Linked DNA regions of Homo sapiens: region 2 is linked to region 1. Evidence: fine-mapped expression QTL. Tissue or cell type: fibroblasts. Region 1 holds a variant in brackets; the other region holds the start of a gene. All regions are shown on one strand. Distances are between the middles of the regions.

Region 1 (8,183 bases):
TATTCATTCTATCTCTATATTTTTGTACCCATTAACCATCCCCACTTTATCCCCAGTCCCTCAACCTTGTTTCTTGTACTTGAATCCCTATTTTCATTACCTTCCTTAGGAAGTGGGGGCTGCCTCACCTTCCGCAGATCTCCTCAGAACACCATCTCGTTATGGGAGCTCAGCTACCATGTAGACTGCCATCCATTTAGCTCTGTTCATAGAGCTTACTGGTTGCTCTCTTTCCCATGATTGTGCTCTACCTGACTGTCACCTTTGCCTGGTTCTTGATGCCAGCTGCAACTGCAGAGTCACCGGTTGCCAATCATAACACTCACTGAATGCAATATGGCAGTCTCCTGAATTCATTTCCTTCCATTGCAGCTAGGTCCACTCTTTGAACAACCACTGCCAGTGCCAGAATTGAGGCTCAGGTCTGGGCCACTCCCAGACTCCCTCTGGTTAATAGGCCTGTGTGTATCATGATTAGAATGAAATTTCTATTAAGTCGTCATCCAATTTCTTGGGGCTTAGAGACCCAAAAGGCCACTAGTTTTTGAGGAAGCTGATTTTATCTCATGAAAAGAAATGACTAATTAGAAATGTTTTAATTCTGTGAACATGAAATCAGAGTCTACATAACACACACAGTGCTTTTGGGCACATTACAAAAAGGCATCTCTTCTAAACAGATCAATTTTTTTAAAAGAAACTCTGCATACCACAGCCTAATCCAAGCCACAGTGCTTGGCCATAGGAGCATGGCAAAATTTCAGCCCACATTTACCTCCTTGTCTGGAAGTCCTGGTGGAGGACTCCCATGAAGTTACATGCAGTCCATGTAACTCTATGTGACTGACGGATTGGCCCTGGTCTGTTCCTTGGAATCTCAAATAACAGGTCTAAATTGCTTTTCCACCACAAGACTCTCCAATTATTATTATTATTATTAGTAGTAGTAGTAGTAGTAGTATTAGTATTATTAGTATTATTTTTAGAGTCTCACTCTTGCCCAGCCTGGAGTGCAGTGGCTGATCATACCTCTCTGAAGTCTTGTGTGTTGAGGCTCAAGCAATCCTCCTGCCTCGACCTTCCCAGTAGCTAGGACCACAGGCATGTCCCACTGTACTTGGTTAATTTTTTTTTTTTAAGAGAAGGGGTTTTGCCATGTTGCTCAGGCTGGTCTTTAACTCCTGTCCTCAAGTGACCCTCCCACCTCAGCCTCCCAAAGTGTTGGGATTACAGGCATGAGCCACCATACTCAGCCAGAATCTCCAGTTATTTGGAAACAGCTGCTCTATTACCTCTGCAATTTCTTTTCTTTGGGTTAAACATCTTGAGTTCCTTCAACTATACCTCTTTGTGAAGTTTTAAAAATCCCTTCTCCTTCTTGTTGGCTCTGTTTGGAATATGCTTCCATTTATCTGTATTTTTCTTCAAGTATGCCCTAAACACACACAGCACTAATGCAGGTTGGTTTCACCAATGTGGATTTATAATTCTCCTTGTTCTACAACATTCTGTGTTTCTTTTAAGGCACCTTAAGACCAAAGAAAGTTGTTAACAGGCTGGCAAGAGAGACTCTGAGCTTCAGGTATCAAGTATTCTAACTTAAATAATTCTCAAATTAAACAAAACCAAAGTATTTTCTTACAATTACTTTTTTAAAGAGGAGTATAAAGAAAACTGTGAGAAACTCTGAGAAAGCAAAAGCTAAGCAAATTTTTTGTGATATATTTAGTTAGATTACAATTCAGTAACTTATTTCCTTCCATAGAGCAAATGCTGATTCCCATACATAATTTCAAACTATCTTCCTTCAATTCTATGTATACACATATACTTATCACTGAACTATTAAACTAATAGGTGAGCCTCTCAAATATCCAATATATGCCTATATCAGTTGTGGCAGTGACAGAGCTTAATCAATTAAATTCATAAGGGCTTGACAGAAAAAAAAATTAAATACATTTTGCCAGCAAATAATTTGAGCTCATGCAGATAAAGGGGAGGTGGTTAAAATTAAGAAGTTCATGTAGTTTTCCAAATTAAAGGAGATATTCTAATTACATCTTTAATGGTGTTGAGAATGTTAATGACGGAGGTTATGAGGTTCAAGGTCCTTAGGCAATATGGTTAGATTAGGTCACAGTCTAAATTCTGAAACTGTTTTCATGCTTTTAAATTAACTAATTGTTGATGTGGATGTATAGCAGGGACTGAAATGAACTAAAGGGTTTGACTTAAGTGTGGTTTGGAGACAGATCTATGTGTCTAACTATAAACGCACAACTGTATCATCTCTTTTAGCTTGTTTGGATAAGCCTAAGATTCTTATAAAGGAGGATAAAGATGGAGATGGCTGGGCCAGATGCAGTCGCTCATGTCTGTAATCACAGTACTTTGGGAGGTGGAGGTGAGTGGATTGCTTGAGTTTAGGAGTTTGAGACCAGCCTGGGCAACATTGTGAAACCCCCATCTCTACTAAATACAAAAAATTAGCCAGGCATGGTGGTGTGCATCTGTAGTCCCAACTACTTAGGAAGCTGAGGTCAGAGGATCACCTGAGCCTGGGAGGTTGAGGCTGCAGTGGGCCGAGATCACACCGCTGCACTTCAGCCTGGGCAACCAGAGTGAGACCGTTTCAAAAAAAAAAAAAAAAAAAAAGGGAGATGGCGGAGGAAACTAGAATAAGCATGATGGGGAAATTCTGAGGGGACATAATAAAGTTGCAAACATGAAGACTCCAGAATCAGACAAACATGATTTCAACCTTGCCTCTGCTATTTTATATTATGTGACCTCTGGGCAAGTTATCTATTTTACTTTTACTTAAGTCTTAGTATTCCTGTTTAAAAAATGGGTTTAATAACAGCTATTTTGAAAGTACTGTGGGGTTAATTGAGATTACATAATGTAAAGCTCTCAAGATATAGTATATGTTCAATAAAATGTTTGTCTGTCTACCAGGCAAGTTGACACAGGCAGTATGGTTCCAGGAAGTGCTTATAAGGTTTAGATCTTTAATGGAGAATCCTTCTCTGCAGAAAAGCGCTGCTCCACAATAAAGATTCTGAGGACTTAAAAGCACTCTATAATCAGAGACTTAAATGGCTGCTACACACTGATAAAATGACTTGGATTCCTCCTGGATGAGGGGTACACATGAGTAGAAGACATTATTAGTAATCTTCAGTTGTCAGTTGTAAAGTATGCAGTCAGGAACTAAGCAAATGATA[T/C]GCCCTAATTTCAACACACTGTTGGCTTTGGAATTAGGGCCAAGTTTTCGTGACATGTCTCCAGCTGGCGTCTCAGTGGTGCTGGTTTTCTGGATGGCAAAACATCCTGTTCAGGATCCCTTATGATCAAAAGAGCTCATCCTAGGGATTAGCCTGTCAAAGAGATAATGCACTGAATCTTACAGAGAGAAGAATGGTGACAGGACCATTATATGACCTGAGATAGGTTCGATATTCTGTAGTGAATCCACTAATTCTGCTTAGTTCCTTTAATTATGCTGGATAAAGGAGATTATATCTATGAGGTACTTGGTTTATGAATTTTCTGTATTTTGGCCCAGACTGCCTTTCAATATACATTTTCATGAGGACTTTTAGATATATCCACACTTGAATGAAATAGAGTCTATACGCAGAACATCAACAAGGAGAGTGATAATGCAAGAGTGTGGAAAGAACTTGAGATGCAGACCTGGAGGATTTTGGATTGAGGTCCTGATTTCCACATACAATTTCTAAGTATCATGGTAAAGTCACTTCACTCCTTTAGACTTCAAGTTCCTCATTTTCCAAGTGAGGATTATGATATCTAACTCCAAAGATGCAGTAAGGATTAAATGAAGAAATGTAACTGATGTAATGTAGGCCTTACAGGTAGAAGGTTCTCAACAAGTGTTTCCTGGATGAAAGACATGAACTATATTTAAAGCAATGTACAAATATTGACTCAGATGTGAAGAGCTCTGTAATTCTTACAATGCTAGTTTTCCCATATCCTTGAAATACATGTCAGTTTTTCTGACTGAAAGTAGCAAATGTTTAAACAAAAACAATCAAAACTAAAATTTTATTATTCAAAATTCACAAAAGTAAACAAATGAGAAAGAAGTCTAGTTAAACTTTCAAATTATGTGGAGTTTTTTTTTTAAGTTTGTAGCACTTATATTTCTAAATTAGTCAAGCCTAAAATTGTGCTAAGACTTTTAGGACCCTGTGTGTGTGTGTATGAAATTAAATTATGTAGTGATGTTATTATTGAGAGAAACTAGCATCTCCAAATAATTCTGCATGGCTTCATAAAATCAAATTCACTCAAGCTTTGGCTACTGCTAACATTTTAATATTTAATAAAAATATCAGAGTGTTTTGCCAATAACCAGGCTAATTCCACAGTGGGGGAAAATGAGATAAAGAAAAAACAAGTGGCTTAACTAAGGCCATGTACTGACCCAGATTTTCTCAGTGAACAAACATTGCTTCTGGGCAAAGAGTTTGCCGTTTTGGAACTGGCATTAAGTTAGGAAGGCTGCTAGGACAGTACTTAGTAATTTAGTTTTTGTAAACTCCTTGGCTTTGTGTCTTGAGTAGTACTAATGGCCCATTATTACTTTAATGATAATAAAAAGAAAAGTGGAAGGGTAGAGAGTCAGGTAGCATTGGAGGTAGTGTTCATGGGATATAGGCATGGCTGGCATGCATGCTGCATTTCAGGTAGGTGTAGAGTACAAGGGAAAGGGCATAGGAATAAAAAGCATAAGTAAAAGTAAAGCATATAAAAAATTGATACCTTAAGATACAAGAATTTATGACATGGGCAGCAGGGTACAGACTCAGACAGTTTCAATATTTGGTTATTGAGCTACTTGCCGCGGGGAGGCTGCAATCCCTCTGCAATGCCAATAAGAAGGGGATGTATATGGACTGAGGTACAAACTGCCTCTGCCATGGAGCCATTATTCCCCTGGTAGGGGAAAGGGGTGGTCAAAAGAAAATTCATACTTTTATTGTTTACTTCCAGTACACAAGACTTACAATTATTTGTGTAACATAAATTTAAATAATTGATGTTTTCAGCTGTAATTTTTGGATTACATTTCAAACAGTTCAAAATACATTTATTTTTTCTGATAAATAAAACACCCTTACACAACTTTTAAAAAAATTCTAAAAAATATCTGCTACAGAAATACCTATATCTGAAGGAAATTAATGCCTTACTTTATTGTCCAGGTAGAAACTGACCAATCTTGTTTGGGTCTACCTACTCCCCATTACCTATCATGAGCTATTTTTAAAAACTAGTTTTTATTATGTTTCAGAATGATTAGCTGACTTTCTTTGCAGTTTAGGGAAATTTTCCTTTCCCTAAGCCCTTTAGAGTCCTTTCAATAAAATGCACTGTGTGTAATGGCAAAAAATATTTCATGCAATCTTATGCAAAAACAGGAATCTGAAAATGGAAATCTTAGGAATGAGTTATTAAGAAAAGACATTTGGATCAAAGAAAAACGTATTTCTAAAGTGAGTGTGATTTATGGTGTTAGGATGGGACATCTTGCCTTCTGAGAAACAGACTTGCTTGACCCAGTTTGTGTTCAGCTATCTGGTAACTTGTTAAAAAGGATTAACATGTAAGGGTCTGGAAAAACTCTAGTCTCTAAGTGGCTATTTAGTATGGGCAGGAAAAGGCTGTTTTTTTCCTAGAAGCCTGGGGCCATACTTTTCCTATGTTCCCATCTAACACATTTAAGGCACACCTGTTGCTGAGAAATGCATCCTCTACACTTTACAGGGTACGTTTATACACACAGTAGCAACTGAGTCATTTAGTCTGCCATAAGCTGCTTCCAGTTTTTAGCCTATTTTCTCTGGAAAATAATACAATTTCTCTTTTTTGGCAACATTCCTATGAATAACAGTGCAAGGAGAAAAACAAACAATTATAAATTTTTAGATATTTAAAAGACATTGGTGGCCCGGTGCAGTGGTTTGTACCTATAATTCCTGCACTTTGGGATGATGAGGCAGAAGGATTGCTTGAGTCCAGGAGTTCAAGATGAATCTGGGCAACACAGTGAGACTTCATCTGTACAAAAAATTAAAAACTTAGCCAGGCATGGTGCTGAGTGCCTGTAGTCCCAGTTATTCGGGAGGGTGAGGTGGGAGGATTGCTTGAGCTCAGGAGGTTGAGGCTGCAATGAGCCAATATTGCACCACTGGACTCCAGCCTAGGTGACAGAGCGAGACCCTGTCTCAAAAATAAATAAATAAATAAAAAAGTAGGAAGACATTGGCTAGGTTTTTTCCCCTAGCCTAATGGACTCACTGGACAAAACTTGATTATAAGGGTGGTAGAATACTAGAATGAGCTTATGACATATTCTGTTAATTAGAAAAAATCTTTTGAAAGCAACTTACTGAGGGATTTAAAAAGTACTAAAAAAAGAGACAGCAGGAAAGCAGTGGCTTTGGAACACTACGGGAATCATAATGAGGAAGCAAGTTATTTGCTAGTGCCCCTCCCTCTTCAGCTCTTAGTGTATCTTTGGCAGATTGAAAACACTTAGTCAACTTCCTTTTTAAATACAGTAGACATGACATTTATGGCCTCCTCACTTACTCCTCCTTAGAGAATTTCCCCTCTCACTTTCCAAGAAGCAGTTCTATGGGCCCATGACAGGACCCTCCCCAGTTAGCCCAGCTACAGCTGACTGGATCCAGGTGACAACCAGCTTGTGCTAGACAGACAGGTCCCTCTCCAAGGAATTTGGAATTGGGGCAGAAGGACAGGAGTCAGTTAACTTGCCTGTGGGAGTTTGGTTTGAAAGTTCACATAGAGTCTGAGCCAGACTTAGCACCACTGCCAGCCAGAACCACATGTACTAAAGATTTAGTAGGGCCGGGAAGTCATGAGTAGGCTGAGAAAACTGGCAGAGGGCAGGAAAAAGGAGCAGACACAGTGAGAAGGGTAGAAAGAAAAAGCTAGAGACCTCAGGAGAGATGACTTACTCTAGTTGGTTTAAAGGAGTTTTTATACTTGACAGCTGGGGGTGGATCCAGGTTTTTTTTTTTTATTATACTTTAAGTTTTAGGGTACATGTGCACATTGTGCAGGTTAGTTACATATGTATCCAGGTTTTATGGGGCCCGAAACATATATCATTTTGGGAGCCTTCTCCAGAAGAAGAATTCAAAATTACAACAGACAATTTGGTACAGGGTCCCATGAAGCTCAAGTGAGAGGCCCTAAAGCTTAAGCTCCATTAATTTCCTTTTCTCTCTGTTTACAATCAAGTCATTTCTGAGGAAGATATCCAGACACACACTAAGGAGAATCTTTTGCAGAAGGTCAGGAGGAATCTGAACTGAATTTCCAAGGAAACTTTTTTCTGGAGACCTTTACTTAGGGACATTCTGGTGAATTCTTTCTTTGGCCATTTCATCTCTGGAAGCCTATGTGCTCCCGGGATTCTGAGGGTCACACTCACAACTCATTCTCTAATTCCATACACACCACACTGGTCTTTCTTCTACATATTTCAATTTTGTTACTGTCCCCTAGGAATTTGTTTGTGTTTAAATAATCCTTTAAAGGAATCTCTGAGGTTTATTTTCTGTATTTGGAATTTTGCTGCTTGGTCTGCATAGTTACAACCACCTGTTTTCTTCTTGAGTCATTATTAACAAAAAAGAAAATTCATGAGGCACATGCTGTTTCCCTGTTTGGCTGGACTTCTTCATTCTCATCACGTCCTTGAAGGGTTTCAAATTGCCTGGTGGCCACTCTTCTAATCCTATCAGTCTGGGAATATTTTAGAGGACTGGATAGCAATACTTACATTGCTATCTTAAAAAATATGAGCTCTCAACCCTAATATCCACAGAACACTTCAGATAAAGCTTCTAATATTGTATATATAATTACTAATGTCTATGAAATGGACAAAACATAACAATCAAAGGGAAAACTACTCAGAGTAGAGTCTGACTTCTTTTCCTTTCCCTTCCTCTATTCCCCTAAAACATACACACACACACACACACATACACACACACACACACATGCCTTAAAAGGACAGTGATGAGCCAGGAATACATTAAGACCAAGAATAAACAGAAATAAAGATCATAGGAGTTATATTCATACCTCAAAGTGTATGAAATACAGTAATG
Region 2 (8,183 bases), 240 kb after region 1:
TCATACCACATGTCAGACTGGTGAAAACAATCTGCAAATTTTATCTCCTTAACATTTCTTTGGTTAAACTCCTCCTTCTCATCTCCACAGTTACTGCCTTAGTTCCTTAGGCAATCATCTCTCACCTTTCTAGTATGATCCACAGCATATAGTCGATAGTCAACAGACATTTCACAGAATAAGTTTATGAATAAATGAATGCAACAATGAATGGAAAATTCTCACAATTGGTATCATCTCCTTATAGGCCATATTGACTCCATTTTGCACTCCAATTTATTTGCTGAACTAATGAAAGGCAGATCTTTCCAAAATTTATATCTGATTATATCATTCCCCTGATTATCACCATTCAATGACCACTACTGCCTACAGGATAAATACAAGATTCTATGGTCAGCATCAGAATCTATCCAACAGATTGGTGATTTGCCTTTTGCTCTACCACCCTTTCTTGTGGCTTTCCTCACCCTGAAAATACTTAACAGTACCTAGAATTACTGTGCTGATTCACAACTCCATATCTTTACTCAAGCTGTTTTCTCTGTCAAGATTGTTCATTCCCTCCTGCTATGCCCACCTGAAAATTAACTACTCATTTGTGGAAACTCAGCTTACACCTCACTTCCCCTTTGAAGCCTGTGCTGACTTTTCTGCCCGGGCTTCACTTCTTTTTCTTTTCTCATGTCACTTTGTAACCTCTCTCTCTAAGCACACCAATAACATTGTTTCACACTTGTTCACAGGCTTGTAGTAGTCCCTTGCTGGCGTCTTTTCCTTCCTCCAGAGTGGAGGCCTTTGCCTTGTTAATTTGGGAATTAGCACATATTACACACTCTAATAATTGTAGATGGATACATAGATGAAGGAGTAGATGATAAGAGTCATGGAAATATTTTAGGCAAGGGGATGATATGATAAGATTTGCATTTTACGAACAATACTATGATGTTAGAGCAGAGAGAAGGCTGAGAACAGAAACCAGATGATCAGGCAGGAGAATATTACAAATCATCTAATGGAGAGGTAAGAAACAGAATGGAATAGAAGTGGTAAAGAAGAAAAGGGAATGTATTTGAAAAATACCTATAAAGTAAACAAACAATAGTTAATGACCTTTTGCCTGACCAGAAGGAGTAAGTATGAGAAAAAGGATGACTTCAGAGCTCCTAGCTTGGGTGACTTCTTCTTGTCTCCTTGTTTAATATCTATAATTCACATCCATAGCATTAAGTCAGGCAAAGATACATTAGGCAAAGTGATCAATTACATGTATCTGCAACACCGTTTCCCATGTAACTTCTCAGAACCACATTTGCTGCATCAACGCAAATTTATATATGAAGCCTCATCCTGTGTCCCCCTACTACCCTCATTATTCTTCAAAATTTTCCTTAAACAAGGAGGAATTAAAAAGGGACAAACAACATTCAGGGAAATGAGCCACCTCATGTTTGAATAGCACACTAATAAAATGAAGAAAAGTTGAAGATAGGAAATATGGCTGTCAGGTAAATCCTAAAGAATAGTAAGGGCAAGGATCTCCTAATCTCCACTAATTTATAAAGTTTAAGGGAAAATATTTGAAGTAGGTCATCCCTTGCTCTGTCCAGCCATCCTATCAATAGGCTAGGATATGTACTCTTGAAAAGACATTTTATAACCCTAAAATACCATTATAATAATTATTTTTGCATAAATAATAGAAATTTATATTTACCTCAAGCATAACTTTAAACATGCTTTTCTTGTTTCTTGGCAGTGAAAACACTGGTTGACCAAGTAAATTCACCCCTGAAGTACCTCATTAATCACGGTGCACTTGTTCTTGGCAAGAACCTTAATATGCTACAAATACTGTTATTAAAATAAGATTTGGGGATTCCCAAGCTGGCAGGGAATTAGTTAGTTACACCTCTCTCGAAATTATTTTATTGGGGTCTAGTTAAACTTACAGCATAAAGCAACTTCGATAAATGAATGTAATGTGTAAAGTCTGGCTATTCTAAAGCTCATTTAAAATCACAAGCAGCAACTGCCAAAGATGGCCTCTTTCCTCAGGGTCTGCTTAGTTGTGCACAATCCTCCCAAAAGATGATACTATCCATTCCCTCTTTGTGCTAATGTGGATATAGCACCCCTATCTAATTGCTGAGGCATTGCAGTTTCAGACTCTAAAATGTATAATCAAAACTTCACATTTGCTACATCTATTAAGTACACAATTTATTTCCTGTCTACTACTAAAGATACTGCTAGACTGATAAAGCCTGGTAGACAGAGAAGTATCCAACCTTGAACCTTTGGAAAAATCATTTATTAATGTTTTAAAATTCTGTAAGCCCATACAAACCTGTTAACACCAACACATGGAAAAGAAAATGTTGTGTTGCAAGTTCTCATTCATGTTCAAGAACAAGTTAGGAGATGCAAAGTATGTGCACCAACCAAGGCTTTCTTTAACTCTCTCTGAATATACAATGCATAATATAAAAAAAAGAAAGGCTAGAAATGTTTTGAGCATACTGTTGTAAAGAAAAAATCATAACCTATACAGTATATATATTTGCTACCAAATTGAGCATTATAATTGCTAAATTATTTTAGTATATTCTGACAGGTCAAAATAATTTACCAGGCTTATTAAGTAATATGTTTAATTACATATCAGGTCAGAGGAGATTAACGAGAAAAGTGTCAGTTGCATTTCTCTATCATTATCCTAACCACATTTAAATAAATGTGAATTTTACATAAAAGTTATACTTTTTGATGTAATGATGATGCAACACAACCGTTCTCCTTGTGTGCATTGTAAAACGGAAAGTTGGCTGGAATATTCTGCCTAATGCTACATGTTCACGTCAATCTGGGACTGTAAAATTTTCCAGACACCAGAGCCCCACAGATTGTAGACTCCACCAATTTCCTGACTCCTATGTGGTTGAATTCCAGGTTCACCTAGTTACAAAACCAGCCCTTCTTCCATGTTATTTCAAAACACGTTTCTGGTGTTGATGCTAATTCTGCATCCCAGGAGAGAGCTATGTATGGATGACATAACTTATTTCTAAAAGAAACCTAGTCCGTGTGCTCAAAACTTATTTTACTAGGAAACAAGGAATGTATCAGCGAGTATCTGCAACTTTCTCTACTGGTCTTCTAAGGTTGATGTCTTTATATTTCATCTTAACAAAAAAGAAGCAGAAATAATAATACTAAAAAAAGAGGAAGCAAAAGGAGAAGAGGAAGAAAAAAAGAATTAGACACGAGGTAACATTATAAAAACAACCTTAAAATGCCCAGATAAACGTAACTCTAATAGGAGACTGAATGAATGGACTTTGTGGGAAAAACAGTAGTAAACTTTAAAGCCACTGAAAGGTTTTAAATGCCTAAGGGAAAAATAAACATTTGCTTCCAATCATTTTCTCATTAAGCATTCTCTGCTAGATGGAGAAGGCTTACTACACACACACACACACACACACACACACACACACACTCTTTGACTCCGCGCCACAAACGGGGACTTAACCCACTGCCCGATCTCTGTCAGAGGCGACCCATTTGCGCTTCTGCTATCGCACCTCCGCCCGCGTTCCTGCGCCCCAGGTTCCCCGCTGCCTCCCCGCCCCCTGCAGCGCGGGAGCGTTGCTTCGCCTGGCCTGCTGGCCTCCTCTAGACCTTGGCCACCTTCTCCGTGGCAGGAAGGGCTACATGCACTGACAGATTTTCCGTTGGTGGTGGCTGGGTGGTGGCGAGGCGTGTTTCCGGGCGCGCTTAAAACCTAGCAGCTCTCTCCAAGTAGCAGCTTCCCCTACTCCGCCCCTAGGACTGAGGACCTAGCCCTCGATGCCCCCTCACTTCTCCCCGTCCTACCCCGCCATCACCTCCTAACCTCTCCAGTATACTCTCAAGCCTCACACGGGCGCCTGTCCTCCCTTTGCATTCCCTAGCTCCCGGGCGCCCCGTTCGGTTGAAGTTTACGTATCTTGGGACCTAATTGCTCCCAATTATCCGCGCAGCCTAAGTCCCGCGTCTGCCTGGCTCTCGCCCCGGGAGCCTGAAGCTACCGGGCAGTTCATTGGGTGTCCTCGGGGAAAAGGTTCAAGCTGTAGAGATGAGAGAAGTGGGGCTGGGGGAGGGGAGAGGCTCCAGAAGGAAGACCACGAACACGTGCGAAGAAATAAAAGCCACCACGTGTGCACGCGCGCGGGGGCCCAAGGGCGCGAGCGCGGAGCACGCCCCAGGGGGCCAGGGACAGTGGTCCCCTGCAGCGGGCATAGCAGGGGGCGCGGGTACTCACACGAAAGCGTGGTAGATGAACGCCCAGCCGCGGGGTCTCTCCAGCACGTTGTACAGGTAGTTCTGCACCCGCCGGTACTTGACGTTGCGCCGGCAGCTCTGGCTACTCGTGTAAGAGAGCGGCTTCCCCAGCAGGCTCATCCGGGCCCCCTGCTTGCCCCGGCGGCTCTCCCTCAGGCCACCGCCGCCGCCACCGAGCGTGGCCGCGCGGGTGCCCAGCAGTAGCAGGCCGTCGCCCCTGGCGGCTGCCGAGTTCAGCAGCACCCTGCCCCGGCCGGACTCCACATCCTTCATGCCGCTGCCCAAGCGCCCCCCGCCCGCCGCCGCCGCCGCTGCGCCGCTCTTCACCCAGAGCCCGGCGGCGCCGCCCTCCTCTCCTCCCGCGTGGTGGCGGGGCATGGCATCACCACGGGCACCGCGAGGGGGCCGCCAGCGCCTGCGGCGGGGGCAGCGGCCTCATGTGCGCCGGCGGGTTTCAAGGAGGAAGCCGGCGGCCGACGGGGCGCCCGCCAGCCAGAGACCTCTGAGCCGGGGGCGGGGAAGCAGGCAGCCAGCAAACCGCCCGGGCTTCGGGGCGGGAAAGGAGGGGCTGCAGAGGAGGCCGAGGAGTCCCAATTTCTAACAGCCTTTAGCTTCGAATTCTAAATCCGGACCTGTTTGGGGCGTCACTTTGAGAGGGTTTCTCTTGCTCCCTCATTCCCGCGACTACCACTCCCTCCTTCCCAAACTGCCCCCGGGGATAGAGTGGGGGAGTGCGGGGCGCTCCGAGGCGCGCTCCCACGCGCGCACACCCAGCCCCAGGCTTCCCCTTCCCTCTCTCCACTCCCCACGCCCTGCAGCGAAACGGCCCCAGAAGCCCCTCTCCGAGGCGCGAGTTCGGTTTGGTTCTGGCAGGGGCTTTGCAGCTGTCCGGAAGGTGAAGTCAGCCTTGTGTCCTGAGGAGAAACTGGAGATGCAGGTCGCTGTGCCCTCCCGCTGCTACGTCGCTGCGCCGGATCCTGCCATCCTTCCGCAAGGGGTGAGAGCGGGAACAGCCCTGCCCTGCCTTCCAGGTATTATCTAGCCTGGAGGCTGGAGCGCAAGGTAACGCTCCGGGAAGTGGCACTCGGGTCCCCGCACACGGGCGAGTCCTCAGCAGTTCAGTGGACAGACCCGCAGGACGCGGCTGCCAAGTCCGCGAGGCAAGGACCAGGCATCTTCCCGCGCCTCACTCCAGCCTGCGGACTGTGACTTTCCATCCCAGTATCAGACAAGCTCGCGAGTAACTGAACATCCTTTCCAGTCCATGGGTGGGGTGTGGAAAGGGCGTAAAACTCCAAAGTGGCTCCTCCGCGGTGAGCGAGCTGCCCCGGGGCTCTGCCTGACTGCAGCGCGAAGCCTGGGAGAACAAACCCAGTTCCCTCCGTCAAGAAATTTCCATTTAAGTCCGAGAAAGTCATATGATTGAGAAGTTCAGCAGCGGCGGCGAGGACCCAGTGTCTGGGAAAGAACACCTGGAGGATGGGGTGTCCAGGACGCCGGCTTTTCGGGGTTCCGACCCCACCCACCTTATGTTGTAACATACAAGCTTAGAGACCTGTTGCAAGGAACAACTGACTGGGTCTTCCACCACCCCTGGCACCCGGGTGGCCCAAAGCCTATGCGCCCTTGGCGGAGAGAGAGGCCACGGTGCCACTGGCCGCAGCCTCTGGCCTTCAGAAACAGTGTATTACAAAGAAAAGGCAGTTTAAATCTCACATTCAGCATAGGGAAAACTGAAGGGTGCCAGGCTCGGGGACTTCTTCCAACAGAGTGGCTCTTCCCCAAATATGAAAGAAAATCATCAAATTAAATTGAAGGCAAAACTAAGCTTCCACCACAAAGACATAGCAGATAGTTGCAAGGTGGATTCCTTCGGGCCTTTTCCTTTCCTAAGGCTAAAACAATGCTAAGACAAAAGTCTTCTTGCAGCTGTCTCCGCCCCTCCGAGATAAATACTTTCCCAATTCTCCCCCACCCTGTACACACACCCACGCCCGCGGCAGCTGATTTCTGTCTTCTGCAATAGCTCGATTTAAATGCTTTGCTTTTACTCTTTATTATCACTATTATTTGTGTGAAGCCCTCTCGCCTGCTCCTGGTCACCAGCAGGAGCCTGCTTCCCTCCCTCCTTCCCCCCAAGCCTCTGGGCAGCAGAAGCTAGCTGGGAGCTCTGTGCAGCTGGCGGCGACGCCATGTGACTGTGAGCCGAGCACCATCACCCAGAGTCACTCTCTAGCTTTCCCCTAATACACTTCACACCCACGCACTGTGGAGGTGCGAGAGAGGTTGCTCCGTGCGGTGCTATTCGAGGCAGATGCAGAGAGCGCCCTGGAGTAAGCTCTCCAATCCTAGAGCTGCGCGGGACCCTGACTGAAGGCGGAGGGGGCGGGAGGGGGTGCTGTTGCTATATTTAGACTCCCTATGGAGTTTCTGTGCAGGGACTTTCAGGGTGAAAGATCTAGAGACTTAAAATGACTCGTGTGCCCGCTTTAAACGTCAAAATCTTGGCCTTTCTGCAAGCAGTAAAATGAAAACCACTTCCTCTTAACTTAGCTGTTTTCCTTGTTGCAGACTGCTACTTTCGCTGGGTAGGTAAAGTCACTTCCATCTCTCTGGCGCGGCTGGGCCCCGCGTGCAGGCAAGAAGTCTCAGGAAGGCAGGACACAGGGACACGTTTCCCTGGAAGACAGCCAGCTGTTTAATTTCTAAGTGATGCTTTTCTGGGGATGCAGCATTAGTTCTAGTGAAACTGTATTATTGATTAAGCAAATGCCATTTAAGCTTAATTAAAAAATAAAAAAGACCCGGTTACTGGTAGCCGTTTTGAGCTGCTGAGAAGGACCTTTCACTTATGTCTTCTAGAGTAACCGCCATTTGGATACACAGCCCAGAAAAAGAGGGCCTGCTCAAGTTTTCGCGGGTAGTGTGAGAGTTACTAGGAATCCAACAACCTGGCTTCCTAGTTCACTGTTCCTTCCACCAATCAATCTGCATCTCCAGCAGAGAATGGATAAAATAGCAAACAGTTCTGGGGTTTTGTATCAATCTCTGACTGCAACCATTGGGAAAGACTGGCTTAGCTGAAGTTCTAACCTTCCTACCTTTCAATGCCCAGAAAGAAAAAGCCAAGTGAGTCTGTGCCAACCTCTCCTACAAGAGCCTCTGTTTGCACCTTGCTTTATTTGCTACCTGCTAACTTCCCTCAAAAGACGGGAATTAACTTTGGAGAAAATAAGGTGTTTGCGATTAAGCTTTGTTGTTGTTCCTTTGAATACAGACGTTGCTAGGAAACTGCCTTTTATTAGTTCGTTTTGCTGAAATATTAAAATTCAAATTTAGAAAAGAGGATAGGCATACTGAGCAGTGAGTAAAACAGTGTATATTCTATGCATTATAATTACATTAGAGCATTATGAAGAGGTAAAGGCAAATGTTAACTGCTAGTGTAAAGTATGTGAGTTGATTGGCCCTCCCCATCTTTTGAGATGTGTTTGCTTTTACTCATTCATTCTCTTAAGATGCTTGCCTGAAATTTATGACCTTGGAAACATTTTCTGAAGTCTACATGGATATGGTTTCAACTGAACATAGTTTCTAGAGATATTTTATTTTAGTGTGTTTCTTTTTCTTTTTTGGAGATGGGGTCTTGCTGTTTTGCCCAGGCTGGTCTCCAACTCCTGAACTCAAGCAATTCTTCCACCTCAGCCTCTCAAAGTGCTGGGATTACAGGCGTGAGCCACTGCTCCTGGCCTCAGTGTGTTTTCTATCCCATTGTATTATTCTTCTGAAAGGTACTCTGAAATAATAATATTTGAAATTCTATACATGAGCTAGAGATGCACAAAAAAAAGACT

What was found. PIP is the estimated chance that this variant, and not a neighbour inherited with it, causes the effect.
Region 2: KCNQ5 starts here. The variant in region 1 is fine-mapped to the expression of KCNQ5 in fibroblasts (GTEx, PIP 0.97).

What each region holds. Positions count from the first base shown.
Region 1 is chr6:72,860,728-72,868,910 of GRCh38, reverse strand. The region is part of intron 1 of KCNQ5 (potassium voltage-gated channel subfamily Q member 5); the gene reads right to left. Among named protein-coding and RNA genes, the nearest start is that of MIR4282, 100 kb to the left of the region's middle. The variant T/C (reference allele first, on the strand shown) is at 3,231.
Region 2 is chr6:72,618,714-72,626,896 of GRCh38, reverse strand. KCNQ5 (potassium voltage-gated channel subfamily Q member 5) reads right to left here and starts at 4,833. Exons shown (of 14, transcript NM_019842.4): 1 at 4,310-4,833. The coding sequence starts at 4,707. It overlaps KCNQ5-DT (KCNQ5 divergent transcript), which reads left to right and starts at 4,218. Exons shown (of 3, transcript NR_186827.1): 1 at 4,218-4,365. RefSeq lists silencers at 3,499-3,548, 4,579-4,838 and enhancers at 3,197-4,148, 6,259-6,448.